3 separate regions of the Homo sapiens genome follow, and all the other regions are linked to region 2. Evidence: fine-mapped expression QTL. A gene starts in region 2. Each other region holds a variant in brackets. All regions are shown on one strand. Distances are between the middles of the regions.

What was found. PIP is the estimated chance that this variant, and not a neighbour inherited with it, causes the effect.
Region 1: its variant is the best candidate, but not a certain one, in a credible set for the expression of SPNS1 in blood mononuclear cells (TOPMed, PIP 0.74).
Region 3: its variant is the best candidate, but not a certain one, in a credible set for the expression of SPNS1 in whole blood (TOPMed, PIP 0.52).

Annotation. Positions count from the first base shown.
Region 1 is chr16:29,176,515-29,186,840 of GRCh38, forward strand. No RefSeq gene overlaps it. Among named protein-coding and RNA genes, the nearest start is that of LAT, 200 kb to the left of the region's middle. RefSeq lists enhancers at 8,221-9,420, 10,189-10,326. The variant G/A (reference allele first, on the strand shown) is at 4,102.
Region 2 is chr16:28,969,850-28,980,175 of GRCh38, forward strand. It overlaps SPNS1 (SPNS lysolipid transporter 1, lysophospholipid), which reads left to right and starts at 4,929. Exons shown (of 12, transcript NM_032038.3): 1 at 4,929-5,543; 2 at 5,643-5,708; 3 at 8,059-8,195; 4 at 9,306-9,457; 5 at 9,556-9,622. The coding sequence starts at 5,303. RefSeq lists enhancers at 4,666-4,785, 4,866-4,975, 5,074-5,243, a cis regulatory region at 5,159 and a silencer at 5,196-5,285.
Region 3 is chr16:29,164,475-29,174,800 of GRCh38, forward strand. No RefSeq gene overlaps it. Among named protein-coding and RNA genes, the nearest start is that of LAT, 180 kb to the left of the region's middle. RefSeq lists an enhancer at 1,904-2,404. The variant A/G (reference allele first, on the strand shown) is at 7,287.

The DNA.
Region 1 (10,326 bases), 210 kb after region 2:
GCTTGAAGAACTGCTTCTGTTTACTGAGCACGCGTGATGTGCCAGGTGTGGCCCTGGGGCTCGAACTCTATTGCCCGGTCTATAAAGCACATGTTGTCACCACCCCGTTTTACAGAGGAGGAAACTGAGGCTTGGGGAGGCTCATCAGCTCACCCTGCGGGGAGTCGGCCGGCAGCAGCTGCGTCACTGTGGATCCCACCCGAGGGTCCCTGATGTGGGTCACACCTGTGTGCTGGCTTTAATCCCCAGCCCCACCTGGATGTGCAGCCTGGGGCCAGCATGGCCCACAAGGGTGGGACGGATGGCATCGTCACCCTCCACGCACAGGGGCCTGAGAGCTCAGGGCCCCTCAGGGAGAGCCCCTGCGGCAGAATCAGAGTCTCAGGAATAAAGGCAAGCAGAGGTCTCAGTTTCTCTGCCTGAAAACTGGGGGTGGCAATCCCCACCTCACTGGCCTGTGATTAGGATGGGAGGAGACAGGCTGAGATGGGGCCCCAGGCACTTCACCGACACCCGGTGAGCACTCACTGAATCCTCACCTGGAGAAGCCCTGGGGGGGTGGGGGGCTCAGCGGCCCTGCCCACGGAATGCCCACCTGGGGCTTCTTCAGTCATGGCATCAGGGGCAAGTGCTTGATCATTTTGTGCCTCAGTTTCCCCCTGTGTCAATGGAGATTTCAGCAGTTCCAACCTGTTCAACACCATGAAGATGGAATAGGTTAGCGTGCTTAACGCACTCAGGGCCGTCTCCAGCCTTAAGGAGGCACCGCCCAGAGCGGGTGGAGCGCCTAGCGGGGTGGGGTGCAGAGCGGGCTGGGGCGCCGAGCAGGGTGGGGCACCGAGGCTGTGTTCCTTGTTGCTGGGGGGATACAGATGCCCCCCCACTCCTTCCGCCTAAGACGCAACCACCAGCCTGGAACTGGAAGTGGGGATCACCCCCACCTTCGGGCCTCTGCTCCCCCGACACGTGGCCCATGGCCATGCATCTCCCTGCAGCGGGAGAAGAAAGCCAGGAGGTGGCCCAGGCCCAGGGCTGACATGTGTCAGACACGGGTGAAAATGCTGCCTTTGTGTCTGACATCTGTCTCTTGCTGTTAAACGATGACAGCTTGTCAGAAACATCACACACGTTTGCTCTAATTAAGGGAACGTTGTGAACAAGTCGCAGCCTTGGGGGGAGCTGTACCGGCTGGATGTGTCCTCTGAGCGGCCCCTGCCTGTGTCCTCCCTGTGGCCTCCCAGGCCATGCACTGGCTCTGTGTCTCCTGCATCTTCACTTGTCTGCCTGGCTGGCGGCCAGCGGCACCAGACCAAGGACCCGCCGCTATTTCCCTGTGTTCACTGCCTTCCTCTTCGCAAGGACACCGAGAGCCCCTGGCTCTGGGCCTCCCATCTGCCCTTCCTCCCGCCCATCGTCAGCGTTTACGAGGGTCTGCCACGTGCCAGGCGCAGGGGAAACAGCGCAGGGTCGGAGGCAGAACCCGCCTACTGGGGAGACAGGAGTGGGGAGTGGCCTCACACCCCACAGGAGGGGATGGAGGAGGTATGCCTGGGGCCATGCCAGAGCAAGGCAGAGGCTTGGTCCAGCCTGTGGCAGTGAGCAGCCGGTGGGACAGAGGCCACAGCAAGGCCAAAGGTGTGGGGAGGGCGGGGGGTGTCTCTCTGGTCCTGGCAGAGCTGCCAGTCCCTACTACGTCTGTTTGTTGATTGGGTCATGTTTAACTTCGGGAACCATGCACAGTGTTGGCCACGAGATGCCGTAACCAGAATAAAACAGGACTCTGGCGTCAACGTAGCTGTCTCATGTCCTGTCAGGAGGTAGGGCAGAGATAAGGGGCTGGTGTGATTAACGCCAGCTGCCTCTGCCCTGGTGGAGAGGACGGAGGACATCACGTCCCTCCAGCCACCCCAGCCTGTGACACGTGACATTTAAAGATTTTTCTTGCTCTTTGAGGCACATTTTTCTATTTTCAAGGACAGATGAGGTCACAGACGCAGTGTGTGCTGCATTTGAAATGTTTTAGGCTAATTTTTGGCCTTTGATTCCAAAGCCTCTTTAAGACATATGTTCTCTCTGTCATCACCCGTGTGGCCCAGCGAAATCCTGAACTCTAAGGAGAAGGCAAATCTCTCTCCTTGCTTTTCAGCCTCAGACAGTGAAGTGAGAAGTTCAACATGCTGGGCTTTGTAGCTGTTTTCTCCTTGTTTTCTAGACGTGTCCATATTCTAGAGTCTCTTATCTTGGGAAGTTACATGCTCTGTTTTTGCCTTTTTTTTTTTTTCTTTTTTTGAGGCAGGGTCTCGCTCTGTAGCCCAGGCTGGAGTGCAATGGTGTGATCTCGGCTCACTGCAACCTCCACCTCCCAGGCCCATGCAATTCTCAAGCCTCAGCCTCCTGAGTATCTGGGATTACAGGCTCCCACCATGACGCCCAGCTAATTCTTATATTTTTAGTAGAGACAGGGTTTCACCATGTTGGCCAGGCTGGTCTCGAACTCCTGACCTCAAATGATCCGCCCACCTCAGCTTCCCAAACAGGCATGAGCCACTGCACCCGGCCCATTGTTGCCTATTTAACGATTACAAAAAAAAAAAAATCTTTAAACTTAAGTGACCTTAAGTCCCAGGGAAGGGTGATGCGTCATGTTCAAGGAAACAGCTTTGCAGTCAACCGACTAGCATTTTAAAAGCAATTATTTTGGAGCATTTCAAACACACACACATAATGAATGCATGCCACCTGGGGCTGGGCCACAGCACCACGGCCCCTCGTGCTATCTCTGCTCCCCCCACCTCCCCTCCCACTGGGCTATTGGTGGCAAATCCCAGATGCCTTTCTCAAACTCACGCATTGGAATCCCACAGCACTAGCTTTGCCATCCAGCCCCTGCGAGCCTCGTGCTTGGCCGCTGTTCACCAGGCCAAGCTGCCCTCTTGGGTTTGCCGCTGTTGGTGCAGAGGCGCCTGCAATGGGCCCAGGGCGGCGGTTCTGCTGCCAGATCTGGTCTTCCAAATGGCTTCTAATTGCTTCTGGCAAGAGCTCCCCTCTCTGGCTCCCCTAGGGGCCCAGTGAAGACCAGAGCTGGATGTTGTGTCCTGGCTGGGCTTTCACATCCTCCTTATTCCCGATCCCAGGGGGCCTCTTGCCCCCTCGCTGCAGGCTTAGGGTGGTGCCCCAGCCCCCAGTGCTGGGCAGCTGCTCTGCAGAAGGATGCTTGGGAGATGGACGGGCTCCCCCTGCCGCCAGAGCCTCCTGTGGCCCGAGGCCATGAGGGCAGTGGGTGGCAGATGTGGGGTGATGAGTGGTGAGTGTCCTGATGGGGCCTTCAGACCAGGGCCCAGTGGTCCAGCCTCTGGGAAGCGGCCGAGAAGCTGGAATTTTCCCAGCCGGCCTCGCAGTCCCGTGTTGGGAGACTGGGCCACTTTGTGTTTTCTGGGCTTAAGAACAGGAACAGCAGCTTCATCCAACACTGCCTCCCTCCACACGGTGCCCAGTGCAGGGCCTGACTGCTCGCCCTGGCTGTGCACCCCTCCTTGCTGCCTGTAATCCTGGAACCACCAGCTCCTTGGGCACAGTCCAGGCTGCTCAGGCATCCATGCACCAGCGGCACCACGACCCACCCGGGCCCGCGTGACTAGACTCAGGACTCAGACAGTGCCTGGCACGTGGCAGGTGCTCTGGCCATGGCTGGGTGGCAGGGACCCTCGCTGCGGGCCACCATAGCACGTCCTCAAGGGTGAGGTCAGGCCCTTCTGGCTGTCTTTGTGCCTGCTCCATTTATTAAATCAAAGCCACCTGTGTTCTCTGGGGTCAGGAGGAGCCATGCCACCTGCAGTGGCAGCCGTGGCTGGAACCTTCTTTCCTGTGGACCCGGGTCTCACGCCCGCCCCCAGGTGCAGCACGGAGCTAAGGTGAGGCCCGGGGAGAGCGGCACCCTCCCCCCAGTCTCAGCCCCCATGGGGTTTTCTGGGCTCCTGGGAAAGAATCTGGTGGCCAAGGCCCGAAGCAGAAGCCCCAGGGATGGGGACAGCTCTTCTCTCCCGCCGTCTCCAGTCTCTGCCCTGGGGACGGCTGCTCCCGTGTGCTGTGCATTTGTGGGGG[G/A]CATTCCTTACACCTCTCCCTGGCCCTCCACACAGCACAAGGGTGGTTTCCAGCCCATGAGATCCATTTGCACCTGAGAGAAGGGGCTGCTGTCTGAAGGGCCTGCGGGAGGGACTCCAGGGCACTCACGGGGCTGCCAGGATGGAAGGGACCCCTGGGGCTGAACGTGACCAACGGGTGGACTAAGGCTGAAGGGGCCAGAAGAGCACGCTGGAAGAGAGGGCAGTGGGGCTTCCAGCACGGTACAGCGTGGGTGGCCTCCTGGGGGTGTCTCAAGCTCAGAGAAACTGTCCCCACGTCAGGAGGGGTCTGCTGAATAACAGCCCCAGAGGCATCCATGTCCTGATCCCTGAATCCTGCAAACATGTGCCCTCACGTGGCAAAAGGGACTTTGCAGATGTGACTGAGGTTCCCTTTCCAGGGAAAGGACCCTGGATTCCCTGTCATCTCAAGTCCTTGGAAGAGGAAGGCAGAAGGACGAGGCCACGGAGAGACTGGAGCTGCCACGCAGCTGGCTCTGATGGCAGAGGAGGGGCCACGAGCCAAGGGATGTAGGGGCCTGGGAAGCTGGAAAGATGGGGAAGATTCTTCCCTGGAGCCTCCGGGAGCAGCCAGCCTGCCCGTGCCTCACCGTAGCCCAGGGAGACTGGAGTCCCACGTCGACCTCTGACCTTCAGAGCCAAAGTCGGTCCATGTTGTTTTAGCCACAGAGACTGTGGCCATCATTCTGGCAGCAGTGGGAGACACAGGAAGCTCTCGGGTGGGGAGCACCGACTGGGGTCCAGGGCTGCGAATTCAGGCCGATGGAATCCCAGCCCCCAGGGGTGTGGGTGGGAGCCAGGAGAGGTTCTGGTCAGTGCTGGGAGGAGAGGCCAGGCTGCTTTCACTCTCAGGGAGGGGCCTGTGAGTTGGAGGAGGTGGGGACCTCCAGGCCAGTGCGCAGAGCACCTGCTGGGTGTGATGTGCTCACGGGATGCTGTGCCCCCTGCCAGCTAGGGAGTCCCCGGGCAGCTGCTTGCTCAACCCTGGGCCATTCCAACATACCCCTTAGACTGTGAGCATGTTGGATGCACACTGGCCTCCCGGTCATCACAGGGGCTTCCTGCCCTCCACAGCCCATGCGCAGCTGACCAGACGGCTGAGCTCAGAGAATATCCCATGTGGAGGAAATCTGAGTGTCGAAGAGAAACCACAGCCTATGGAAGGGACCCCTGAGTGTCGAAGAGAAATCACAGGCGGCAGTGATTGTGGCTTCCTTCGTCGTTGTGTGTACGCCAGCGGTCACCTGTCTTTGCACCCCACTCTGAAGCCTGCAATGGGACAGCGATTGCAGCTTCCTTCGTCGTTGTGTGTACGCCCGTGGTCACCTGTCTTTGCACCCCGCTCTGCAGCCTCCAGGGGGCAGCAATTGCGGCTTCCTTCGTTGTTGTGTGTACGCCGGCGGTCACCTGTCTTTGCACCCTGCTCTGTAGCCTGCAATGGGGCTTTCCCCCAATTCCTCCCACGCATCAATGTGTGTTCACTCACCAACTTGCCCCTCTGAGGGGCAGAGGCGTGTGGTGTTTTGCTCCTTCAGAGACTCCCTTGGGGCCTCGTTCCCAGCTCCACCACCCCCATGGGGCCTGCAGCATGTTCTGCACATGGATGCCCCAGCACAGGAGGTCCAGCCACACAAGAGGATGCCCTGCTCCATGCTGGACACACACTAATGGCCCAAGGAGAGCAGAGTTGGCCCCGGCGCTGTGCCTCCCACCAGCGTCCCACTCTGTGAGGTCTTTCTTTAATCATGAATCCTAAGGGAGGAGGTCTCCTGTGGGGCACAATTGGCCAGAGGGGCAATGTGGAAGCCTGGCTGCGGCACCAATGTCTCTGTGAATTGCAGCTCCTTTGAGCTCATGGGACCCTTTCTCCAGGTTCCCTGAGCTCCCAGGTCACTGGTGTCCTTGAGGCAAACACCCTTCCAGAAGCTGTCAGCGGATCCGGGCCTTGGATGGGCTCCTCCCTCTGGGCTTGGCAACCCCGTCTCGGGCATCTGCCACCACCCTGCCTTGGTGGCGGTGAGGCTGTCATCATTCTGGGGCTGGGCTGGCGGGAGGTGTCGTGCTGGGGCCAACTCTGTTCTCACTGGGCCATTGGCCTGAGTCCGGCATGGAGCTGAGCATCCCCTTGTGTGGCCATGACCTCTTGTGCCAGGGGGGTTCATGTGTGGGACATGCTGCAGGGTCCTCAGGACTCAGACAGTGCCTGGCATGTGGCAGGTGCTCTGGCCGTGGCTGGTGGCAGGGACCCTCGCTGCGGGCCACCGTAGCACGTCCTCAAGGGTGAGGTCAGGCCCTTCTGGCTGTCTTTGTGCCTGCTCCATTTATTAAATCAAAGCCACCTGTGTTCCCTGGGGTCAGGAGGGGCTGGGCCTGGTTCATTTGTCATTGTTCAGAGTCAGAAGCTGAGTTCACAGTCTTTCCTCCAAGGTCACACAAGGTCTCCTGGTACCACATCAGCTGATATTGTGGAACATTCTCCTTGAAGGACAGCAGCCAGTCCCGCTTCTTTGTGCTATTCCTGGAAAGAGATGTGCACAGGCCACATGGGAGACCTCCGTGGGCTCTCCGGCCTTCACTCAGCCAGAGATAATTCCCCTGGTGAGTGCTGGGCGGGAGAGATTTCCATGGATTCATTTTCACGGAAAAGACCAAAGCCGTCCAGCCGCCCCTTATCTGTCGGGCCGGTGTCTGTGTCCTGACAGAGGCCATTTGTCGGCCCCCGCCTCTCCCGCCCTGTCTCCGTGCAACCGCAGCCTGAGTGTAGAGATGGGCGCATCCCTGAACAACCCTTTCTGCTTCTCCTGACACCCTTTGCAGGGCTGCGGCTTGGGGAGTGGAGTTTAGCAAGCAGTGGGCGAGTCTTGCACTCAGTCCAAAAGTAGCAAGGGAACTGATTTGTACCGTGGTCTCACCACTGAAGAACCCCCCGCACCCCCAGCAGCTCCTGGAGACATGGATGATGCCAGGACAGCAGCTCCCGGAGACACGGATGATGCCGGGGCATTGGGCCTCACCTCCTGGCTGCAGCTTTACCCCTGACACGTGCTGGGCAGGCTCTCTTTCCCTCTTTCAGTCTCAGGTTTCTCGTCAGAAAACAGGCTGAGGAACTGGTCTATAAACTCCTTTGCCCCCAGTGAACTCCTACTTATCCTTCAAAGCCCTGCTCACATGCCCCTCCTCTCCAGGTGGACAGGCATTGCCATCCTCCGGCTTTGCTGTGCTCCCCATAGAACTTTCCAGGTGTTGCCTACCTCTGTCAGGCAGGGGCACAGCCCCCCAGCACATCATTGGGTTCAAAAAACATTTGTTGGTTAGGAGCAGTGGTTCATGCCTATAATCCCAGCACTTTGGGAGGCCGAGGCGGGTGGATCACCTGAGGTCAGGAGTTCGTGACCAGCCTGGCCAACATGGTGAAACCCCGTCTCTACTTAAAAACTACAAAAATTAGTTGGGTGTAGTGGTAAATGTCTGTAATCCCAGCTACTTGGGAAGCTGAGGCAGAAGAATCGCTTGAACCGAGAGGCGGAGGTTGCAGTGAACCGAGATCACACCACTGCACTCCAGCCTGGGTGACAGGGCGAGACTCCATCTCAAAACACAAAAAAACCAAACAAATAAACTAAAAAATGTGCTGCAAAAATCAATTTAGAGCCGTTTTCCTCTCTGGATTCAGTTACAGCTGTTTTTTGGTTTTTGTATAAATATTTCGAAGGGCAAGCCATAGCATCTGGGTAAAATCTAGACTTGCCCTCTGAGCTGCCTCCACGTTCAGGTGGGTGTTAGGGTCATCCGGAGGGGTTGCTGACAGCAAATAGCTGCTCCCCCTTTGTGGGTGGACTCTCAGTGCCTGGAACAGTGCCCAGGAAGCTGCATTGTGAATCAGCCCTTCAGGCGACTGGCTGCAGGTGGTCTTTGGACCCCACGGTGAAAATCCTGCCGGCCTGGGAAAAGTGCCGTGAACAGGAAGCACCAGGACTGGGTGGGGCCGATTCGGGAGCTTTGAGCTTTCCAGGTTTGAGTTTCCGGACTTTGGGAGGTGACACTCAGGACGGGGGCTGGGAGGTCGCTAATTTTGAGGAAGCAGCCTCTAAGGAAGAACATGAAACTGGCCCGGCCGTAGAAGCGCCGTGGGGTTCCGGTAGGCAGGCTGTGGAATTCTGCGCCACGTCATTCATCTCTCGCCACGGTGGGGAAACTGAGGGTAGAGACAGGGGTTTGAATTCCTCAGGCCCCGGGAAGGGGTTTGGAGCCATGGAGTTTGAAAGTATTGTCCAAAGAAGTCCAGGAAGAAAGTGCTTACGTGTAATTTACGACTCACTAATGAAAATGGCACAGAAGTGACACGCGACTCCAGAGCCAGCACCCGTCCAGGTGAAGCCCCACAGGGCGCAGCTTTCTGGGACCTCAGCGAGCTGAGCTCCTCCGCCGGCTCAGCCCAAAGGCAGCCCCTCTGCAAACAAAGTCTTATTCTTTGAAACAGGAACCCTCAGGGGCCGCCTGGGGACTGGTGCCGACTGTCAAACCCAGCAGATGGGCTTCATCCAGGCCTCAACTGTCAGCCGGGACGACCCCAGATCACACGGGCGTGGGCCGTGGTCAGCCGGGAGCGTCCACGTGGTCAGCCAGCCTGATGTGTTCGGTGACTCAGCCAAAGCTTAAAACACGGAAGCCGGGTAGCGCTGGGCGGCTGCGTGTCAGAGAATGAGTGTTTCCCGATGGAACGGCGGGATAGAAATGGCCGCAGACTCTCCCTGCTTCCAACCAATTTCGCTTTGCGGTGCTCACCTGTAAGCGACTGTCCAAAAGTCCACAGATGCGCAGGGCTCTGGGTGAGACCTCTGCCAGGGTGGCGTCTGCTGCAGTCCTTTGCTGTTAATATAGTTGTGTGCCTCACACCACTGCTTCTAGTGTCTTCCGTGTGGATTGGTAGGCACCATTAGTATCGTAATCATTCTTTTAAAACCAAACAATACTTGTGTGCACCCTCAGTTGGCTGCTGCTGTAAATGTTCTCCGTAACCCAACCTGCTGGTCGAGAAGGATCCTCGTTCGGCCACTTCTGAATTGCAAGCTACAGCTCCTAAGAACCTGAGCCCAGGCTTTGGCAGGAAGCCTCCAGCAATTTTTAAGGCACCTTAGTAAAGACGTCCCAGCATTCATCACAGCAAAAGTGCAGAATTGCTCTGAGCAACAAAGTCATGGGAACCCAGAAACTCAGAAAACCCTTTTCTGATAAATAAATACTTGTGTAAAAGATGTTTCTGCGGAGGAGCTGATGTTCCCACACCAGCAGTAGATACTCCCTTCTTAAACAGAAGAGATGGAAACGCCTGCGTCTCAGCTCTTGGGGGCAGGGTGTGGGGAAAGCCCCACAGAGAGAGCTGGCTTTGGAGAAGATGGCCTGGAGGTGAGGCCATGGGCGGAGGAGGGCAGGCGTCTCAGGCTGTGGATGCAAAAACAATTCTGAGAACTGTAGCGAAAGGAAGATTTCATTTTAAATGTGTTGAAAAAATCACCATTTGGCTAAGATTCTGCACCAGGCCCCACCTTGCTCTGGCCCTAACGCGTAGCCCTCTGAGATGGGCTTTGGCGTTGGAAAAGTCATGGGCAGCCATGAGCAGCCTACAGACACGCTCTGGTTTCCATAGCTCTCCAACACTCCTCTGCAGGGTTTCTTCTGGGGCTGGGGGAGCGCAGCTGCTTTTCCGTCTATGGTGCTGGCCGAGGCTGGGGCCGGGGCCTTGGCAGCTGTGGATTTTGGCTGCCCCCGCGGTCCCGGATCCGTGCTGCTGATGTCTGCTTGGCCCGCTGGTTGCCTCTCTGTGGAATCTGTCCCTGGCTGGGTCTTCTGTTGAGCCCCCCTGTGCCAGCCCTGACAGTGTCCCGGCGTCCACAGGCGGGCTCTGTGGTGCTTTGTAGCTACCTCTGTACTAATTGGAAAAAACCATTTGCCCCTACCTGGGCCTCTGGATGGATTTTTTTTAAATGTAAGAATTACTTAGCAGTTGGTAAATCACTTCCCTCTCTTCATTTCTAGAGAAACTGTCCCTTTCTGGGAAGGCGAGGGTCGGAAGGACTGCAGAGTTGCCAGGGAGGCCGCAGCCAGGGTGATTTGCTTTGTGTTTCTGACACAAGCCGCCGTCTAATGATTTCCCAGACTTAAACCATTTGCGTTTTCATTAATG
Region 2 (10,326 bases):
CCAGCTACTCAGGAAGGAGGCTGAGGTGGGAGGATTGCTTGAGCCCAGGAGTTCGAGACTGTAGTGAGCTGTGATTGTGCCACTGCACACCAGCCTGGGCAACAGAGCAAGACCCCATCTCAAAAAAGTCTCTTGCTTGGTGTCTGACACCTTGACACAGTAGTATCCTAACAAATGTTTGTTGAATGATTAAACTCCTGTCTCAAAGAATCCCAGCATCATCCATCTCTGCGTGAGCCAGAAAAGCTTCACTCTTGATCCCTTTTCATCCCCCACACCCACTGCATCACCCGTTCAACTTAATAGCCCCAGCTCCCTCCCAAATCAGCTCCCTCTGCCCGTCTCCATGCTGTCCTAGGCCAAGCCACCACTGCCTGCAGCCTAGGCTAGTGCCACAGCCGCTTCACGGGTGGCTGTTTCCCCTCTGGCCTCTCAAATCCATCTTCCATGCTGCAGCCAGAATGATATTTTCTTTGGTTTTTTCTTTGTTTTTTTTTTTTGAGACGGAGTCTCAGTCTGTTGTCCAGGCTGGAGTGCAGTGGCGCGATCTTGGCTCACTGCAACCTCTGCAGTGAGGTTCAAGCGATTCTCCTGCCTCAGCCTCCCAAGTAGTTAGGATTACAGGTGTTCACCACCACGCCTGGCTAATCTTTGTATTTTTAATAGAGACAGGGTTTCCCCATGTTGGCCAGGCTGGTCTCAAACTCCTGAACTCAAGTGATCCTCCTGCCAAAGTGCTGGGATTACAGGCGTGAACCACCACTCCCGGCCTATTGTAGTTTAATTAATATGCCTAAACATTGACTCATTTTAAGCATACAGTTCAGTGAATTTTTTCAAAAAATTATTTATGTAGAGACAGGGTCTTGCTCTGTCACCCAGGCTGGAGTGCAGTGGCGCAATCATAGTTCACTGCAGCCTCAAACTCCTGGCCTCAAACATCTTCCCATTTCAGCCTCCCTAAGTGCTGGAATTACAGGCATGAGCCACCATGCCTGGCCTTCAGTGAGTTTTGGTAGATGTACACGGTTGTGCAAAAGTTTCCTTCTCTTGCCCATGACCCCAGGCAACCACTAATCTGCTTTCTGTCACCTTACTTTTGCCTTCTCTGGATGTTCATATAAATGGAATAACAGTATGCAGTGTTTTGTGTCTGGCTTCTTTTACTTAACACAATGTTTCTGCGTTTGTATCAGTAGTTCTGTTACAGGACAGGGGTCCCGATCCAGACCCCAAGTGAAGGTTCTTGGATCTCGTGCAAGAAAGAATTCAGGGTGAGTCCACAGTGTGAAGTAAAAGCAAGTTTATTAAGAAAGTAAACTGGGCCGGGCACAGTGGCTCACACCTGTAATCCTAGCACTTTGGGAGGCTGAGGTGGGCGGATCACCTGAGGTCAGGAGTTCAAGACCAGCCTGGCCAACATGGCGAAACCCTATCTTTACTAAAAATACAAAAATTAGCTGGGCGAGATGGTTGGGGCCTATAATGTCAGCTACTTGGGAGGCTGAGGCAGGAGACTCACTTGAACCTGGGAGGCAGAGGTTACAGTGAGCTGAGATCATGCCATTGCACTCCAGCCTGGGCTACAGAGTGAGACTCCGTCTCAAAAAAAAAAAAAAAAAAAAGTAAACTGGTGAAAGTACAGCTACTCCATAGACAGAGTAGGACATTCCTGAAAGTAAGAAGGGGAAGGCATCCACCTTATGTACAAGACTCATATATATGGGGAGATGTGCTCTGCTACAAGGGTTTGTGATAAAGGATTTTTTTTTTTTTTTTTTTTGAGATGGAGTCTCGCTCTGTCGCCCAGGCTGGAGTGCTGTGGCACGATCTTGGCTCACTGCAACCTCCGCCTCCTGGGTCCCAATTTAAGCAATTCTCCTGCCTCAGCCTCCTGAGTAGCTGGGATTACAGGAACACGCCACTATGCCCAGCTAATTTTTGTATTTTTAGTAGAGATGGGGTTTCACCATGTTGGCCAGGCTGGCCTTGAACTCCTGACCTCGTGATCCGCCTGCCTTGACCTCCCAAAGTGCTGGGATTACAGGCATAAGCCACTGCGCCCGGCTAATTTTCTTAATTACTATATTTAGCAAGAATCAATATTGTTATCTTTAAAGCAAAATTAGGAATGCTTTGTTCTCCATATATTGGGATATCTGGACACTCCCAAGTCTGGGTCTGTTTAGTAAACATTATATTATTATTATTTGAGATGGAGTTTTGCTCTTGTTGCCCGGGTGGGAGTGCAGTGGTGCTCTCTCAACTCACTGCAGCCTCTGCCTCCCAGGTTCAAGTGATTCTTCTGCCTCAGCCTCCTGAGTAGTTGGGATTACAGGTGTGTGCTACCATGCCCGGCTAATTTTTTTTTTTTTTTTTTGAGACGGTGTCTCACACGGTTGCCCAGGCTGGAGTGCAGTGGCACAATCTCGGCTCACTGCAGCCTCTGCCCCCTGGGTTCAAGCAGTTCTCTGCCTCAACCTCCCGAGTAGCTGGGATTGCAGACGCCCACCACCACGTCTGGCTAATTTTTTGTGTGTGTTTTTAGTAGAGATGGGTTTTCACCATCTTGGCCAGGCTGGTCTTGAACTCCTGACCTTGTGATCCACCCGCCTCGCCCTCCCAAAGTGTTGGGATTACAGGCGTGAGCCACTGCGCCCGGCCTAGTAAACGTTATTGTTTCCTTAACCATAAACATGTCGAGTCTAGGAATGCCTTACTTTCTGTAATTCAGTCCAGCAAGTCCCAGCCTTATTTTCCTAACCGTCACTCAAGATGGAGTCACTCTGGTCCGAACGTCTCTGACAGTTCATTCCTTTTTCTTGTTAAGCTATTCCCGTTGTATGAATAGATTATGCCCCTGTTGATGGACATGTGGATTCTTTTCATTTTTGGGCTATTATGAATAATGCATTTATGAACATTCATATACAGGTTTTTGTTTGGACACGTTTTCATTTCTCATTGGTGGTTACCTAGGAGTGGAATTGCTGGGTCATATGGGAAGTGTATATTTAATTTTTATTTATTTAGTTTTTTTGTAGAGATGAGTCTTGCTTTGTTGCCCAGGCTGATCTTGAACTCCTGGGCTGAAGTGATCCTCCCACCTCAGCTTCCCAAAGGGCTAGGATTACAGGCATGAGCCACTGTGCCTGGCCAAAAACACAATTTTTAAAATGGACAAAAGAGCTGGGTGCAGTGGCTCACACCTGTAGTCCTAGCATTTTGGGAGGATGAGGTGGGAGGATTGCTTGAGTTCAGGAGTTCCAGACTAGCCTGGACAACATAGCGATAACTCATCTCTACAAATATAAAAATTAAAATGACACTGGGCATGGTGGCTCACCCCTGTAATCCCAGCACGGTGGGAGGCTGAGGCGGGCAGATCACTTGAGGTCAGGAGTTCAAGACCAGCCTGGCCAACCTGCTGAAAGCCCATCTCTACCAAAAATACAAAAAATTAGCCGGGTGTGGTGGCACGTGCCTGTTATCCCAGCTACTTGGGAGGCTGAGGCACAAGAATCGCTTGGACCCCGGAAGTGGAGGTTGCAGTGAGCCGAGATCCCGCCACTACACTCCAGCTCCAGCCTGGGTGACAGAGCAAGCGTCTGTCTCCAAAAAAAGAAAGAAAGAAAAAAAAAAAGAGTTCTTTACATGGATACAAGTCCTTTGGCAGATAGATGCTTTGTAAATATTTTCATTCAACCTGTGGCTTGCCTTTTCACTTCAGAGGTGCAATTTACAATGCGTATCACTCTCTAGATAAGCTCCACGAGGGAAGGGAGTAAGTCTGCCTTTCCCTGAAACCTGGTAAAATGCCAGGCACATACATGTTCAATAATATCTTGTTGAGGGAATTAAATGCCTGCAACCTGAAGTTCCTGTCCGCCAGGGGAAACCAAGCTTAAGGTTCTGAAACACGAGGCACCTAATATGGGGGGGGGGGGGGGGTTAAAGCCAATTATGGGTATTCGGACTCGAAATAGTTTCTAACAAGGCGTTTTGGGGTTGGGGGATGCTCTCCCCACGAGATTCCAGGATTTCAGTAGAGGGCCTTTAAGGGCTGGTTGAAAGATGGGTCTTGAAGCTGTATTTGCACAGAACTATACTAATTTTACTTAGAGTGCTTTATTAGATGTAGCTTGGAGATTATAGGGTGCCACTAAAGAACCACTCCCAAGTTATCCCTTTGACCCTAGTCCTGCAGCTGGGAGTCTCCTTAGGCTAGGAGCTCCTGCCTGCCCTACAAAAGCCCACCGGAGGGCGCAAGGGCTCCAATCCCGATTGGAGTGAGGAAAAATATGCTCCAGGAGCGGCGGGTGGAGACGCTTCCTTTAATAGGTATTTAAGTGTCCACGGTGAAGGCTCAGGAGTTTACAAGGCTAGCAGGGTTGGGGAATCTCAACAAAGGGCGGGGCGTTGCTCAAGCTCCATCCGTCCGTCCGTCCATCCCTCCGTCCCTCCAATCCTCCATCCATCGCGCTGCTCAAGCTCCATCCATCCATTTATCCATCCATCCATCCATCCTTTATTGAGAGTAAAAAGCCGCCAACCAGACCCTGGGAGGAAGACAGGATGGTTCCCGAGAACTAGGGCTGCTCCTTGGCTTTTAGAGGTATCTACTACTTCCAAAACCTTTTGAGACCCCATTATCCCGTTTGATGAAGATGGAGTCTGCCACGTGGGGGTTCCAGATAAGACAGCTGAGATTCGGAAGGGCAGGCGACTCCACCTAGTCACGGGGACGCTCTTTTTGACGCTCCAGGGACCGCAGGGTCTGGGAAAGTTCCTGGTTACTCCGGCGACCGGCCGGCCGTCACATGACATGTGAGCCCGGGCGGAACGCCCAAGAGGCTTCCGTAGTCGGGTGGCAGGTCACGTGTCGAAGGCTTGCCCGCGGGGACCCCTTCCACCCTGGCTCCCGCGTCACATGACCGGCTTTAAGCAACATGGCGGCTGCCGTGGTGCAGCGCCCGGGCTGAGCGACAGCAAGTGCAGCGGGCTCCTACCCCGGGTGAGGGGTGGCCTCCGCGTGGGATCGTGCCCTCTTCAGCCCGCTCCTGTCCCCGACATCACGTGTATTCCGCACGTCCCCTCCGCGCTGTGTGTCTACTGAGACGGGGAGGCGTGACAGGGCCCGGGTCCCTTCTCAGTGGTGCTCTGTGCTTCAGGGCAAGCTCCCCGTCTCCGGGCGCACTTCCCTCGCCTGTGTTCGGTCCATCCTCCTTTCTCCAGCCTCCTCCCCTCGCAGGTGGGATCGTCGGTGGGACCGGAGCGCGGGCGGGCGCGGCCCCCCGGGACCATGGCCGGGTCCGACACCGCGCCCTTCCTCAGCCAGGCGGATGACCCGGACGACGGGCCAGTGCCTGGCACCCCGGGGTTGCCAGGGTCCACGGGGAACCCGAAGTCCGAGGAGCCCGAGGTCCCGGACCAGGAGGGGCTGCAGCGCATCACCGGCCTGTCTCCCGGCCGTTCGGCTCTCATAGTGGCGGTGCTGTGCTACATCAATCTCCTGAACTACATGGACCGCTTCACCGTGGCTGGTAGGGACTCACTTCTGGGAGGAAGATAGTCTAGGAGAGGGGAGCCAGGGTCCCGAGGGTGGCGCTGCTTTGCCGGACCATCCTGAATTTTCTCCTCAGGCGTCCTTCCCGACATCGAGCAGTTCTTCAACATCGGGGACAGTAGCTCTGGGCTCATCCAGACCGGTGAGTGGGGACCACTCCTGGTCACACAGCCGCTCCTCCTTCTGTTCTGTCTCAAGTGGGGCCACGCGCTGGCCTGTCTAGGGGCTCATTAATGGAGGTTTTGTGGCCAGTTAGGGGAGGTGATGGCCCTGATGTTGCTCGGGGGTCAGCGGGACACCACATTTAAAGAGGGAGTCAGTTTAGTATAACTAAGTATAACTTCACCCAGGTGAAGACAGACCTGGGTTTAAATCTCAGCTCTTCCACTTATTGTGTGATGGTAGGCAAGGCACTCAACCTCTCTAAGCCTCATTTTCCTTGTCTATAAGATGGAACAAGTAATAACACGAATCATCTCTTAGGACTGATGTGAAGATTAACTAAAAGATTGTCTGTGAAGGGCCTAGTGCAGTGTTTGGCACATGGTAGACACCCAGTAAATAATGGCAGGAGGGTTGGGTGTGGTGACTCACGCCTGTAGTCCCAGCACTTTGGGAGGCCAAGATGAGTGGATCACTTGAAGTTAGGAGTTCAAGACCAGCCTGGTCAACATGACGAAACCCCATCTGTACTAAAAATACAAAAATTAGCCAGGCATGGTAGCGAGCGCCTGTAATCCCAGGTACTTGGGAGGCTGAGGCATGAGAGTTACTTGAACCCGGGAGGCAGAGGTTGCAGTGAGCCGAGATCGCACCACTGCACTCCAGCCTGGGTGACAGAGCGAGACTCCATCTCATAAATAAATAAATAAGTAAAGGCAGGAGAGGGTGTCTGGAATGGGGAGAGGTGTGTTTTACTTGTTCACAACTTTGGGACTTGTGGGAGAGGCAAAGCTAGAGCCAAGCCCTTTTTCTTCCTTCCATCCTTCATTCATTTCTCAACCATTTCTGAGTACTCATTGTGTGCCAGGCCTGGAGGAAGTGATGATTACACCTGTAGGACTTTGCGAAGAACTTTTATGCCCCTTGTCTTCTAATCCTTCTATCAGTCAAAAATAGGTGTTACTGTTCCTATTTTATAGAGGAAGTAGGTAGTGATATCTACAGCTTATAAAGAAACTGAGGCTTGGAGAAGAGTTAAGACTTGCCCAGGGTCACACCACCAGTTGGAGGCGGAACAGGAATTTGAAACCAGGTCTTGCAGTGTTCTTTTCTCTACTCCAGGCCAATGAGGAACTGGAGGTATTTGAGGTGAAGTCTGGAGCAATGAGAATGGGATCATAGGGCAAGGTCTTCAAACCTCTGAAGAGTTGTTGAGTTAGAGCAGCAGCTCTTTCTAGGCAGCCGGATTTATTCACTCTCTTCACATGCTTATTGAGCACCTGTTTTGCACTAGGCTGTGTGTTAAGTAAGTGAAAGAAACACAGTCATGGCCAATACAGGCAAGGACCTTGCCTTGGGAGCTGATAGTACGCTATGCATGAGGCAGCAACAGCCAGTAAAACGCTAAACTAAAGTGGGACAGTTTTCCCATAGGGATAAGTGTTATGTAACAGAAAACAGTCCAGGCGCTGTGGCTCACACCTGTAATCCCAGCACTTTGGGAGGCCGAGGCGGGTGGATCACGAGATCAGGAGATTGAGACCATCCTGGCTAACATGGTGAAACCCCATCTCTACTAAAAATACAAAAATTAGCTGGGCGTGGTGGCACGCCCCTGTAGTCCCAGCTGCTTGGGAGGCTGAGGCAGAATTGCTTGAACCTGGGAGGCGGAGGTTGCAGTGAGCTGAGATCGCGCCACAGCACTCCAACCTGACAACAGAGCGAGACTTCGTTTAAAAAAAAAAAAAAAAAAAAAGAGAAAAAAGTAAATGTGAGAGTCAGGTACTGGATGTGTGCTCACCTGGGCAGCATGCTTCACCCTTGGCCCTGGGCAAGTATCTGAGCTGGAACCTGAAGGAACTATGCTCTGTGAAGTTTCAGGGGGAGAGGAGAGAATGTCCTTGATAGAGGAGGCAGTAGGTGCCTAAACCCCTAGTGGTATTGGCCTTGACAATTGGGCCATTGGGATGCAGACAGAGGAAGGGAAAAAGGCTGGCCATGAGTGTGGAGAGGTAGGCAGGGCCTAGATTGGACAGGGGCATTGTGAGCCATGGTATGCATGGAGTTTGGAGCTTGTTTTGGCTAGGTGGAAGGAATTGACAAGTAGTGGGACCATCCATTATACAATGGGAAATCTGGAAAGGTGTTCAAGATGGAGCTGGACCATCCGCCTGACAGGAAGCTCTGATGGGCTTCAGGCTGGGATGTGGGGGTGTTGTGAATTCTGTAAGGAGAAGGCAGGCATCTCCTGTGCTTTAGTGGTTCCAGCTGGGGTGGGAGTGGGAGGTAGGGGTACCTGGGCTGAGCTGTGACTCTCTGCTTCCCCCTAGTGTTCATCTCCAGTTACATGGTGTTGGCACCTGTGTTTGGCTACCTGGGTGACAGGTACAATCGGAAGTATCTCATGTGCGGGGGCATTGCCTTCTGGTCCCTGGTGACACTGGGGTCATCCTTCATCCCCGGAGAGGTGAGGCCCCAAGCTGGCTCCTGTTTCTGCCCACACCCCCTCCCTGTCAGTCTCTGCTGCTGCTCCTTGGAGCTATGGCAGACTGGGCCTCAGGGACTCCTGCAGTTTCCCTGGTCCATGCCATTTTATACCCCTCCTTGCCTGAGTTAACCTGCCCCACCCCATCCTCCCCTTTTCTTCCAGAGCATTCTCTGTCCATTATCCCCTCTTCCCCTGACCACTGACTCCTTCTACTCCATACCTAAACACTCCAAACCCTACCTGGCCTGCCCTCTCTCCCTCCTCTCATTCCTGATCAGACTTCCTGAAGGGCCCCTAGAGCGTGGTGCCAGTGTGGGTAAAAGAGCAGCCGGGGAGATGCCATCACTCTGCCTGCACTTCCTCACGCCTGCTCACCCCTCGAGCGCTGCCACTGACTTCTGCTCCCACCACTCCACGGACCCTGCTCTTGCCAAAGTTAACAGTGGCCTCCTAGTTGCTAAACACAGCTCCAACTTCCTGGTCCTGTTCATGCTAGGAGCCTCTGGCACTGTTGACCCACTCTTCCTTCCTGAAACTCTCTCCTACCTTTGCGATGCCACACTCTTCTGGCTTTCCTCCTGCCTCCCTGGCTGTTGCTTCTTTGTTCCTTTGAAGCCTCCTCTGTCTGTTCTCACTCCACCCCAGAACTCTGTCCTCAGCCCCAGGACCTACGTACTTTCCTTGGGTGACTGTACCCGTCCTTAGCTTCAGGTGCCTTTGGTAGACACATAAACTCCCATCTAAGGTCACTTATTCATTAAAAAAAAAAAATTAAAAAACTTTCCCCTACCAGGCAAGCAGGGGTTGTCTTATTTAGACCTTTTATTGTCTAGTCCTTGCAATAGCTCTGTGAAAAGTTGTTGTTATCCTCCTTTTGCAGATGAGGAAACTGAGGCTCAGAGAGGTTAAGTTATTTTCCCCAAATCGCAGCTAGTAAGTGGTGGAGCCAGGATGCAAGCTCAGGTCTGTGTGATTCTAAAACCCAGGCATCTCCCGCCATCCCTGCTGCCTCTTGGGAGCGGGCTGGTGAGGTAGCCCGGAGGCTGGTTGCAGGCTGGGGTGCCACCTCTCCCCGGTCTCTCTCCCCAGCATTTCTGGCTGCTCCTCCTGACCCGGGGCCTGGTGGGGGTCGGGGAGGCCAGTTATTCCACCATCGCGCCCACTCTCATTGCCGACCTCTTTGTGGCCGACCAGCGGAGCCGGATGCTCAGCATCTTCTACTTTGCCATTCCGGTGGGCAGGTGAGTGGGCCTGGGGCCTGGGGGAAGGCAGAAGGGCCTGGTGTGGGGGACTGGACTGACTGGCTGTCCCCCCTTTTTCCCCTCTCTCCCTCCCACAGTGGTCTGGGCTACATTGCAGGCTCCAAAGTGAAGGATATGGCTGGAGACTGGCACTGGGCTCTGAGGGTGAGTCTGGTCTTGGCCTGGGGGTAGGTCAGCGACGTTCTCACTGATCCCTGTTTCCTACCTTTGGACCCCTTCCCACCGCCCATTTTTCTTTTAAGAGACAGGGTCTTGTTGTGTCACCCAGGCTGCAGTGCAGTGGTGCAGTCATAGCTCACTGTAGCCTGGAACGCCTGAGCTCAAGTGATCCTCCCACCTCAGCCTCCCAAGTAGCTGGGACTATAGGTGCCCGCCACCATGCCTGGCTAATTAAAAAAACTTTTTCTTTTTGTAGGCTGGGTGTGGTGGCTAACACCTGTATCCCAGCATTTTGGGAGGCTGAGGCAGGTGGATCACTTGAGGTCAGGAATTCAAGACCAGCCTGGCCAACATGGTGAAACCCTGTCTCTACTAAAAATACAAAAATTAGCTGGGCGTGGTGGTGCATGCCTGTAATCCCAGCTACTCGGGGGGCTGAGGTAGGAGAATCACTTGAACCCAGGAGGCGGAGGTTGCAGCAAGCTGAGATTGTGCCACTGCACTCTAGCCTGGGCGACAGTGCGAGACTCCTTCTCAAAAAAAAAAAAAAAAAATTTTGCCAGGCATGATGGCTCACGCCTATAATCCCAGCACTTTGGGAGGCTGAGGTGGGCGGATCACCTGAGGTCAGGAGTTCTAGGCCAGCTTGACCAACATGGTGAAACCCTGTCTCTACTAAAAATACATAA
Region 3 (10,326 bases), 190 kb after region 2:
GGATTATCGAAGTAGATGTTTGCATTGTCTGTAGATAATGCAGTTTTATTTCTTCCTCTCCTGCATGCTTTTTATTGTTTGTTTCTGTCTTTACTGTACTGGCTGGAACCTAGTACAATGTGAGATAGAAGTGATGTGTGGAGACATCCTGGCCTTAGGGGGAACGTCTCGTATTTCACCATTAAGGATGATGTTAGCTCTAGACTTTACAGAGATGTTCTTTATCAGTTGAGGAAGTTATTTCCTATCCCAGTTGTGCTTGGAGATTTTAATCATAACTGGATGTTGAGTTTTGCCAAAGCCTTTACTGCATCTTCCACAATGATCTTATTGTTTTTCTCCTTATTCTGCTTATATAGTGAATTGTGTTGATTGATTTTTGAATGCCAACTCTGCATTTTTGGGATGAATCTCACTTGGTGATAATATGTTTTTTGTTTTTTGTTTTTTTTGAGACAAAGTCTTGCTCTGTAACCCAGGCTGGAGTGCAGTGGCTCGATCTCGGCTCACTGCAACCTCCGTCCCCCGAGTTCAAGCAATTCTCCTGCCTCAGCCTCCTGAGTAGCTGGGATTATAGGCACGCACCACCATACCCAGCTAATTCTTGTGTTTTTGGTAGAGATGGGGTTTTGCCATATTGGCCAGGCTGGAGTGCAGTGGGGCAATCTCGGCTTACTGCAACCTCTGTCCCCCGGGTTCAAGTGATTCTTCTGCCTCAGCCTCCCGAGTAGCTGGGATTACAGTCACACGCCACCACGCCTGGCTATTTTTGTATTTTTAGTAGAGACGAGGTTTCATTCACCATGTTGTCCAGGCTGGTCTCGAACTCCTGACCTCAGGTGATCAGCCCGCCTTGGCCTCCCACAGTGCTGGGATTACAGGTGTGAGCCACCACGCCCGGCCCAGTTTCATGTTTTCTGGGATGGATTTGCTCATTTTTGTTGAGGAATGTTGCCGTGCTCACGAGGGCCTTGCTCTGCTGTTGCCTGCAGGTTCTTTCCAGCGTTGTCCGCGTCACAGGCCTCATAACACAGATGGGAAAACAGTCCCTCCTCCTTCACTTTCTGAAGAAGTTTGTATGAGTTTGACGTCATTCTCTTCCTTAAATGTCTAATAGAATTCAGCAACGAATCCCTGGCTTCCAGGATCTCACTAGAATAGAATATTATCGCCTTGATTTCACTGCTTTCATTTTTATGGCGACTTTCTGTTTGGTCAGTCGACTCTGATTTTTCCTTTACAGTAGTAATATCAAGTTTGATTTCTCAATACTTGCATTGCAGTTTATGAGAAAATTTGTTTAAAGAAAGATAAGTGAACAGCATTCTGGGGCGGGAGGAGGAGGGCGGTATTCAGATACGGCGAAACCATTTGTTGAGAGTGGAAAGGCTGGTGTGATGAGCGCCGTCAGTGCTGCAGGCGGCAGGGAGGGCCTGGGGCTGCCCTGTCTCGCCTCTACCTTGGGAGCTGCTGTGTGAGTTGAGCACTGGGCTGAGGGTGGGGTGGCCTCCTTTCCATCTGAATTCTGTATTTGAGATGAAGAAGGTTGGATTTGGTGACAACAAGAACTGTGTTTAGAAGGAAAACTCTGTTTCTTGAAGCAACACCTACTCCAAATTTCCAGAGGGTTTTGCTGTCTCCTCACCTCAGTTAAATGAGGGAGACTGTGAAGGACCAGCCCAACACTGAAGATCTAAGAGTTTATTCCCAAAACACCTCCCCAGAACCAAGCTCCAGGACACACAGGCATGAGGCTTGCCTGTGCCGGCGGCCACAGCAGTGAGTGTAGGCCCAGGGTTCTGCACAGGAGGGGCTGTGCCCCTGTTTAGGTCTCGGCCCACCGGCCTCTAGTCTGTGTGAATTCTATGGGAATTACTCCCTGGGCCCTGGGAGAAGGGCAGAGGATGGCAGCTGTTGGGTGACCCAGATGGCGAGACAGCACCAGCACAGATGCCTGAGCCGCTGAGGATGGGTGGCCCCTCTCGAGGCCAAGGGTTGAGCCCCTGAAGGCCACGTCGCCCAGAATGCAGGCCTTTCTCGGGGGGCCGTCAGGAGAAGTAGGGGGTGATCCTGGGTAACTTGGGGCACAGGCTGGTGCAGCCCTCTCCAAGGATGGCATCTCTTGAGGTTTTACATTGAATTCCATGATATAGCATATTTTTAAAAATATGAAAATGATGTTCATAATAACCAACTGGTTGAATTATTATTTTTTGCTGTTCTCACCCTCCAACCCTCAAATACAATCGATCCTCCATGAAGTGGCGCCACTGTGGTTCAGAACACTTTACACTTTGCTTAGAGGGTGCTCCACCTGGAAGGGCCTGAGCTCCTAAACAATCGGTAATGCAGTGATAAAGCGTTAACTTCCAACTATCAAAAAGTACCTGACTCATTCATTCCAACTGGAGCTCATCCCCGTGAGCTCTGGGTCAGAGAGATGAGCTCCCCAGCCCTGCCACAGCGTCATGCCAGGAACCAAACTAACACGAGCCTCAGGCTCCTCATCTTAAAGTGGGGTTAGCCTTAGGGTCATCTCGGCCTCTGGTGAGCCATCATGGCAGCCTCTCGGCAGGGTCTGGTGGGCAGGAGGTCCTCGGTGAGTCTTGTCACTGCCTCTGTTCTTCCTTGGAATCTGTGGAGCCGAGAAGACAGAACTCATTGTCCTCTGCTTCTGTACTTTGCACATACCGGTTTTTTTTGCTACAAGTTCTATATTGCATTGCATTGATTTATGCAAGTATCTGTTTCTTTATCTGGGGTCCTACCCTCTTTCAACACAGTGCTTGGAATTCAATAGGTGATAAATATATTTTTTGTTAAATTGAAGCTGCCTGGGAGTGGTGGTTCATGCCTATAATCCCAGCACTTTGGAAGGCTGAGGTAGGAGGATTACTTCAGCCCAAGATTTTGAGACCAGCCTAGGCAACATGGGAGACCCCATCCCTACTAAGAATACAAAAAAATACAAAAAGCCAGATGTGGTGGCACACGCCTGCAGTCTCAGCTACTCAGGAGGGCTGAGGTGGGAGGATCACTTGAGTCCAGATCAAGGCTGTAATGAGCCAAGATCGTGCCATTGCACTTCAGCAGCCTGGGCCACAGAGCGAGACTCTGTCTAAAAGAGAAAAAAAGAAAAAGAAGGCTATTGCCACACCAGCCACCAAAGCCCCTCTGAGGGAATCCTGGCATGCTTTGGTCTTTGGTTTGGAAAAGTTACCAGTTTCAGACTTAGCTTTTCTTGCTTGTGATCAAGTCCTGGTCCTGTGGTGGCAGAAGTTTCTGTAGTTTTCTCTTCAGTGAAAAACCATTTCTAGATCTGCATTAAGAGGACTAAACTGAATGCGTGGGTCGGCAGAGTTGGGCTCGAGGACCATTACCGTCGGGCGCTGTTTGTCTCTAACCCGAATACCAAGCCTCCCAGATGGCAGCTTGCAGCATCGGGGTGCGTGCGCAGGAAACGGGAGGCTGAGCTGTCCAGCCCTCCCTCAAAAGCCGGGGTCGAGGCCATTTGGGGGTCTTCAGAGAGGTCTCGCTGTATGCTCTGGACAAACTGCATGCCGCACACAGCAGGTATAGTCGGTTCTGCCAAAACGTGATATCGGCGTCCCTAGAAACCACCACGCAGGCAGAATGGCGCAGTTAAAAACCACGGTGTGTGGGGAAAGGAAGCCAAGGGTGCAGCACTCAAGGACTTCACCGGCACCAGGTTACAAAGGGAGTGGAGGCCGAGGTGGGCGGATCACCTGAGGTCAGGAGTTCGAGACCAGCCTGGCCAACATGGTGAAACCCCGTCTCTGCTAAAAATACAAAAAATTAGCTGAGCGTGGTGGTGGGCGCCTGTCATCCCAGCTACTTAAGAGGCTGAGGCAGGACAATCACTGGAACCCCCCCGGAGGTGGAGGTTGCTGCGAGCTGAGATCGCGCCACTGCACTCCAGCCTGGGCGACAGAGCGAGGCTCTGTCACAATGAATGAATGAATGAATGAATGAATGAATGAATGGAATCATCACAGTGATCCCAGTACTTAGGTTTAGAGCATCATCTTTCTGAATGTATTGTCATGTAAATGGGCAGCCCTTGGCATTTAGCTTTATAACCACTTTTTCCACCCGGTGGTATTTTGTGGCCATCCTTCTGCGTTGGGACACACTGCTTTGTTCCTTTTCATGGCTGCACGGTGCACTGTTGTACTCACTCTTTGGGCAAACGTTTACGAACCACGTGCTGTGTGCTGGAACCATGTGCTGGGAGCTGGGGACACAGTGAGGAGGACAGAGAGGTCTGCGTGGATGCACCACCATCCATTTCACAAACCCCTTATGGATGGGTCTAGATCATTCTGTGTAGTTACTTTCTGCAATGAGCCATGTTGCAATGCATGTCTTCACTTATCCATCTTTGCATATGTATCTATTAGTTATTTAGAATAAGTTCCTGGAAGTGGAATTACAGAATCAAGAATAAGCACATTTAAAAGCCAGGCGGATGTCCAAGAAGCTCCTAAAAAGCTGCATCCATTTCCATCTGCCGACCCCGTGTGGGTGTGCCCGCCTCCTCACCCTGACAGCAGGGTGTTGCCACACTTGTAAATCCCTGCCGCCTGGCAGTTGGCCTGTGCCTCGAGCAAGCTGGTGTCATGGATTGTGAGTTAGGATGGACAGCTGTTTGCATTTTTTCTTTGGCTGATTGCCAGTGTATATTATTTTAAAATTTTAAATGGATTTGTTTTTTCCTCATTGATTTATAAGAGCTCTTTCTATATGGAGGATATTTACTCCTTGCCATATACCCATTGCCATTTTTCTCTCTGTTAACTGATTCATTTCATCAGAGTTTTCATCTTGTTTCAAAAGAAAGTCCCCAGGCCGCTCCTCCCTGCAGGCAGCTCCTGGACAGGGGTCAGTCCCCCCGCCATGTGCCTGCCTTGCTGATGAAGCCAGGGTGAGGCCCCGGGCAGCAGGGGCTCCTGACCACCTGGGAAGAATCGGCACTCCCTGCTGGCATCTGGAACAGAAGCCTATTGGCCTGGGGACCCGAGCATTCCGTGGGGCAGGGCTATGAAGGAATCGTCTCTGTAAATCTTCAGTGTCCTCATTTCTCCCCTCCTTTATCTCACAAGGCCTCTTGGCCGAGCCCAGTCTCCCCCGAGGAATCCTCTCTGGCACACATCATTTGTCATCTGCTTTGTTCTGCTACTCAATGTTTGGAATTCCAGGCTCACTGAGAAGTCATCTGTTGGGGAGAATTTGGGGCTGGTTGACTCTGTTGTCAGTGACACCGCCAGATGGGGCTGACTCCAGATGGACGGGGTTGGCCAGGGTCGATCTGGGCCAACAGTGCCAGCCTGTGGCTGCTTCCCGGGCAGGGGCCATCTCATGGGTGCCTGAGGGGTGAAAACTTGGGGTGTTCGTGTCACCTTGGCTGGGGCACAGGAAGGCCCCACACGTTAGCTGTTGGTGAGGAGCACCCACACCCAGGGGAGCACTCACACCCAGAGGAGCACCCACACCCGGGGCCCCTCTTTCCTGGGCATTCGGTTCCTCAGCGACACCGGCTTGGTGCTGGGACCCGTGATCCACAGGCACAGATCTGTCTTCAGGGATCTCACTGTGAAGCTGGCCATGTTTTATTCTTTTTTTTTTTTTTTGAGATGGAGTCTCGCTCTGTCGCCCAGACTGGAGTGCAGTGGTTTGATCTCGGCTCACTGCAAGCTCTGCCTCCTGGGTTCATGCATTCTCCTGCCTCAGCCTCCCAAGTAGCTGGGACTACAGGTGCCTGCCACCACGCCCAGCTAATTTTTTGTATTTTAGTAGAGATGGGGTTTCACCGTGTTAGCCAGGATGGTCTTGATCTCCTGACCTCGTGATCCACCCACCTTGGCCTCCCATAGTGCTGGGATTACAGGCGTGAGCCACCGTGCCGAGCCAGCCATGTTTTATTCTATGTGTTCAGCTGGACAAAGGTCCCCCAGTTGTCCATGTCCTAGTCCCTGGACCTATGAAAGTGCAGCTGGACAGCAGTGCCAGAGCCGTTGTGAAATGTAAGCCACTGCTGTTAAGTCAGGTTCCTCTGCGCTGGGGAGGCTGCGAGGATAGAGCCACCTCCAGCGTTGTCTTCCAGCCTGGCCCCTGCCCTCCTCCTCCTCATCCCATCCGGCCCGCCCTACAGGCACAGATGTCCTTCTCACAACTCTGATTTTCATTTTGTTAGATTGCTGGGATAAAGCAGAGACATGTTCAAGGCATGCAGCTGTCCTGAGCTTTGAGGATGGCGTGTTGCAGCTGTCTCCGGCTTGGCCAGGAGGCTGGGTCCAGATGGCGGCAGCAGGGTCTATTTCTGGCTATTCGTAACCCCAGGCCAGGGTTTTAGATGGGTTTTAGAACATTTAGATGAATGAGTTGTGTGCTCCTGGTCAGCGGCACTTGCTGTATCGTGTGCCCTTCACAAATAAACCTAGCTAGCAGATGTAGCGTGGGCCCTGCCCGTGGGGGCCCATTGACATTTTGCTAATTACTCAAAGAGGAGGCCTGGAGCCTGAACGATGGACGTCTGATGGCTCATCTCATCCAGAGATTGCCTCGTGCCTGTTACGAGTCTGTCCCCAGCTGCCATCCTGCCAGCTCTGCCTTCTTTTTGGAGAAGATTAGATGATTCTCATGTACCGAGCATGCCCAGTACAGGGCAGGGCCTGGGTGAGTGCTCAGGTTGGTGCAGTTTGTACCTGAATGATGACTGTGGAGGGCTTTGTCGTGAGCCTGGCCACTGGGAGGGGAGGATGCAAAGATAAGTTCTGTCCTCCACAGTCAAAGATCTCAGCATCCTTGGGCAGACATGCATGTATGTAACTATGGATGCATACAGCCATGTGCATGTACAGCTGTGTGTGCATATAGCCATGTGTGCGTACAACCATGTGTGCATATGGCTATGTGAGCATACCACCACACAAGCACCATGTGTGTGCAACCATGCGTGTGCAAGTCATGTGTGCATACAGCCATGTGCACATACAACCTTGCATGCAATAACCACGTGTGCATACAACCATGTGTGCATACAGCTGTGCGTACATACCACCAAGCCTGTGTACAGCTATGCATGCATACAGACGTGTGTAACTGTAAACAGTCATATGTGCATACCACCATGTGTGCGGTTGTGTACATACAACCAAGTGTGTGACAGCTATATGTGCATGCAGCCATGTGTGTGCAGCCATGCATGCATGCAATCATGCATGTATACAATTATGTGCACATATGACCTTGTGTGCATACTCCAC[A/G]CATGCATGCAACCACGTGTCAGCTATATGTGCATACCGCCATGCATGTATACAGCTATACATGCATACAACTGTGCATGAATACAGCTATGCGTGCATACCACCACAGTGTGTGCACAGCTATGTACGCATACCACCATGTGTGCATATAACTGTGTGTGTATAACTATGCTATGAGCCATGGTAACTCATTGCAAGAGGGAAGGGAAAGACAGCCAAGGGGTTATTGTAGTCTTTAGAAGATGAGCTTCTTTACAACTGAGGAGGAGAAAGATGTTTGATACAAGGCATGGTCAAGGCTCAGGGAGCAATGTGAGGTGCAGAGCCCTGGGTCTGCAGATTTGGCTGGGAGACCATGGCTAGCCCAGGGAGACAGAGGGTGGGAAGAGGAAGATGGGATTGGAAAGCTGTAGGGGTGCTGTCTTGCCCAAGACGATAGAGCCGGGTTAAAGCAACAACAGAGCCTGGAGAGGAGCTGGTGTGGCCTTCACCCCATCACGGAGCATTCCACCACTCCCGGTCCAAGGGAGTGCCCGTCTCACTCAGTGTCTGTGACGCTGGACAGCAGAACCATGTAATCAGACACACAAACTATCAAGGTGTGTTGAAACTATCACATTCTAGAATGTTCCATGGACTCTTTTGGCATCCAAGAGCAGGGACTTTACTATTCCAAACTCAGCCATAATTTTGTAGTACTTGGTGAATCATTACTCACTGGCAAGAGTTCACTGTTGTTTGTCTTCTAATCACAATCCTGTTTAAACCATGTCCTAGTGCTGGGATTGGCCCCTCCCCTGCCCTCACCCCACTTTCCCAAATGCCACACCAAAGTCTTGGCAGGGGATGTGCCTGTCTGGGAGCGCCCAGTGGGTTGTCAAGGGATGATTACACAGAGTCATAGCCCTAGCTTCCTTACCTCTTGGAATAACATAACACATAAACCTCCTAATTTTCATCTTCCTTCTACATAAGCCTGATTGAATAGTAGAAAAGTCATCTTTTTAAAAGGAATCTGCCCCTAGATACAATATTAGTAAACTTTATGTGGCAGTGTCTGAATAAAAGGGACATTTGTAGTCATGCAAGGTTGATTCTGCAAAGGAACATAACAACCCACCACCAGATTAACCTCTGAATCCATTCAAAATGCCATGTGACCAAATTCATCTCTTCCTGATTTCAGTAAACTAGACATAAAAAGCAGCCTTCTTAACTTCATAAACTTGCATAGGATATTATTCCTAATGGAAACACATTTAAAGCATTTCCACTAAAGTCAGTAGCAAAACAAGGGTGTCGGCCTTGCTGCTACTTTTCTATGTTGTATCTGAGGTCATCACCAAAGGAATAAGACAAGAAAAAGAAATAAGCAGTGTGAGCACAGCTATTCAGCTATTCACCATTCGGCTGCCTGGAAAATGCTAGAGGGAGGCCTCTGGTGAAACTCTAGGCTGTGCTGACAGAGGGGACCCTCTCCCACTGTAAACACATAGACATTCTGGGTGAAATGTAACCTGCAACATTTTAAGTTCATAGACAAGCTTGAAAGAAAGACAGGGAAAGCTTTCAGGACTAGAAATGAAGAGTGAAATGAGAGGGTGTTTCGGAGACCCTGAGAATTGTGACGAGTGTCAGAGCGGAGACTGCTCTGCATCCCACATGCTGGAAGCTGGGATGAGCCCAGCCAGGAGGCTCAGAGCCCCAAGGAACTGCACATGCTGTGAAAAGTGGATCTGAAACCTTTTTGCCCCCTGGCCTGGGGACGTGATGAGGAAAATTGCTATGAAAAGTGGATCCGAAACCTTTTTGTCCCCTGGCCTGGGGACGTGATGAGGAAAATTGCTGTGAAAAGTGGATCCGAAACCTCTTTGTCCCCTGGCCTGGGGACGTGATGAGGAAAATTGCTGTGAAAAGTGGATCCGAAACCTCTTTGCCCCCTGGCCTGGGGACGTGATGAGGAAAATTGCTGTGAAAAGTGGATCCGAAACCTCTTTGCCCCCTGGCCTGGGGACGTGATGAAGAAAATTGCTGTGAAAAGTGGATCTGAAACCTTTTTGTCCCCTGGCCTGGGGACATGATGAGGAAAATTGCTGTCTGTCCAGGCTTTGAGTAGAGGAAAGAAGTTTCCCGTAAGAAATAGAATCTCCAGACCTTCTCGACACCTGAGTCTGGTGACTGCATGGTTGGCACAGCACAGAATCCCTAAGAAAGAAATTCACAGAACCCCAGGCCAGAGGATCTGGTAAATGAGGACATTTCCTCAGCCCAGCATTCATGAGACAGTCTCCAAACAACAGCATCAACAACAAAAGATACACAGAACAACTCCTACCGAGTTTGAGCTCCAATAAACAGTCACAGGAAGAAATGAACTGTCAGGATCAAGTGCAGTGAACACACAATCAGCACTGTGCAGACAGGGAATAATTGAACAGCAGGAAATACATGTGTTTATCTAAAATTATTTAATACAAAAGAGGGAGTCATAATGAAAGTCCGGAGCAAAAGAAATGGATTTGGAATTGAAGTGGCAGAACCGATTTAAATGAAAAATATAGTCATAAAAAAAAAAACTTTGGCTATATTAAATGGAAGGTGTAAGATTGCTGGTAAGAAAAGTGGCCAGGGAAATACAATACGGAGGAATAAATATTTGGAAAGGAGGACGGAGCCATTTAGAAATCGGAGGGTAGCACGGAGGAAAGGAGGACGGAGCCATGTAGAAATCCGGGGGTAGCACGGAGGAAAGCAGGACGGAGCCATGTAGAAATCGGGGGGTAGCATGGAAAGTCTGTGACAACACTGATTTACAAATGAGCAGGCAGAACGTGAGAGACACGATGTTCAAAGATCCTGCAGAAAAGCCGGGGGCCTTGCCCTTCTAGTTACCAAAATATACTCTAAAACTGTGTTAATCCAGGAGGAATTTCAGTATAGAAACAGATAAGTGGATTTTAAATTGAGGCCGGGTGCAGTGGCTCAGGCCTGTAATCCCAGCACTTTGGGAAGCCGAGGTGGGTGGATCATTTGAGGTCAG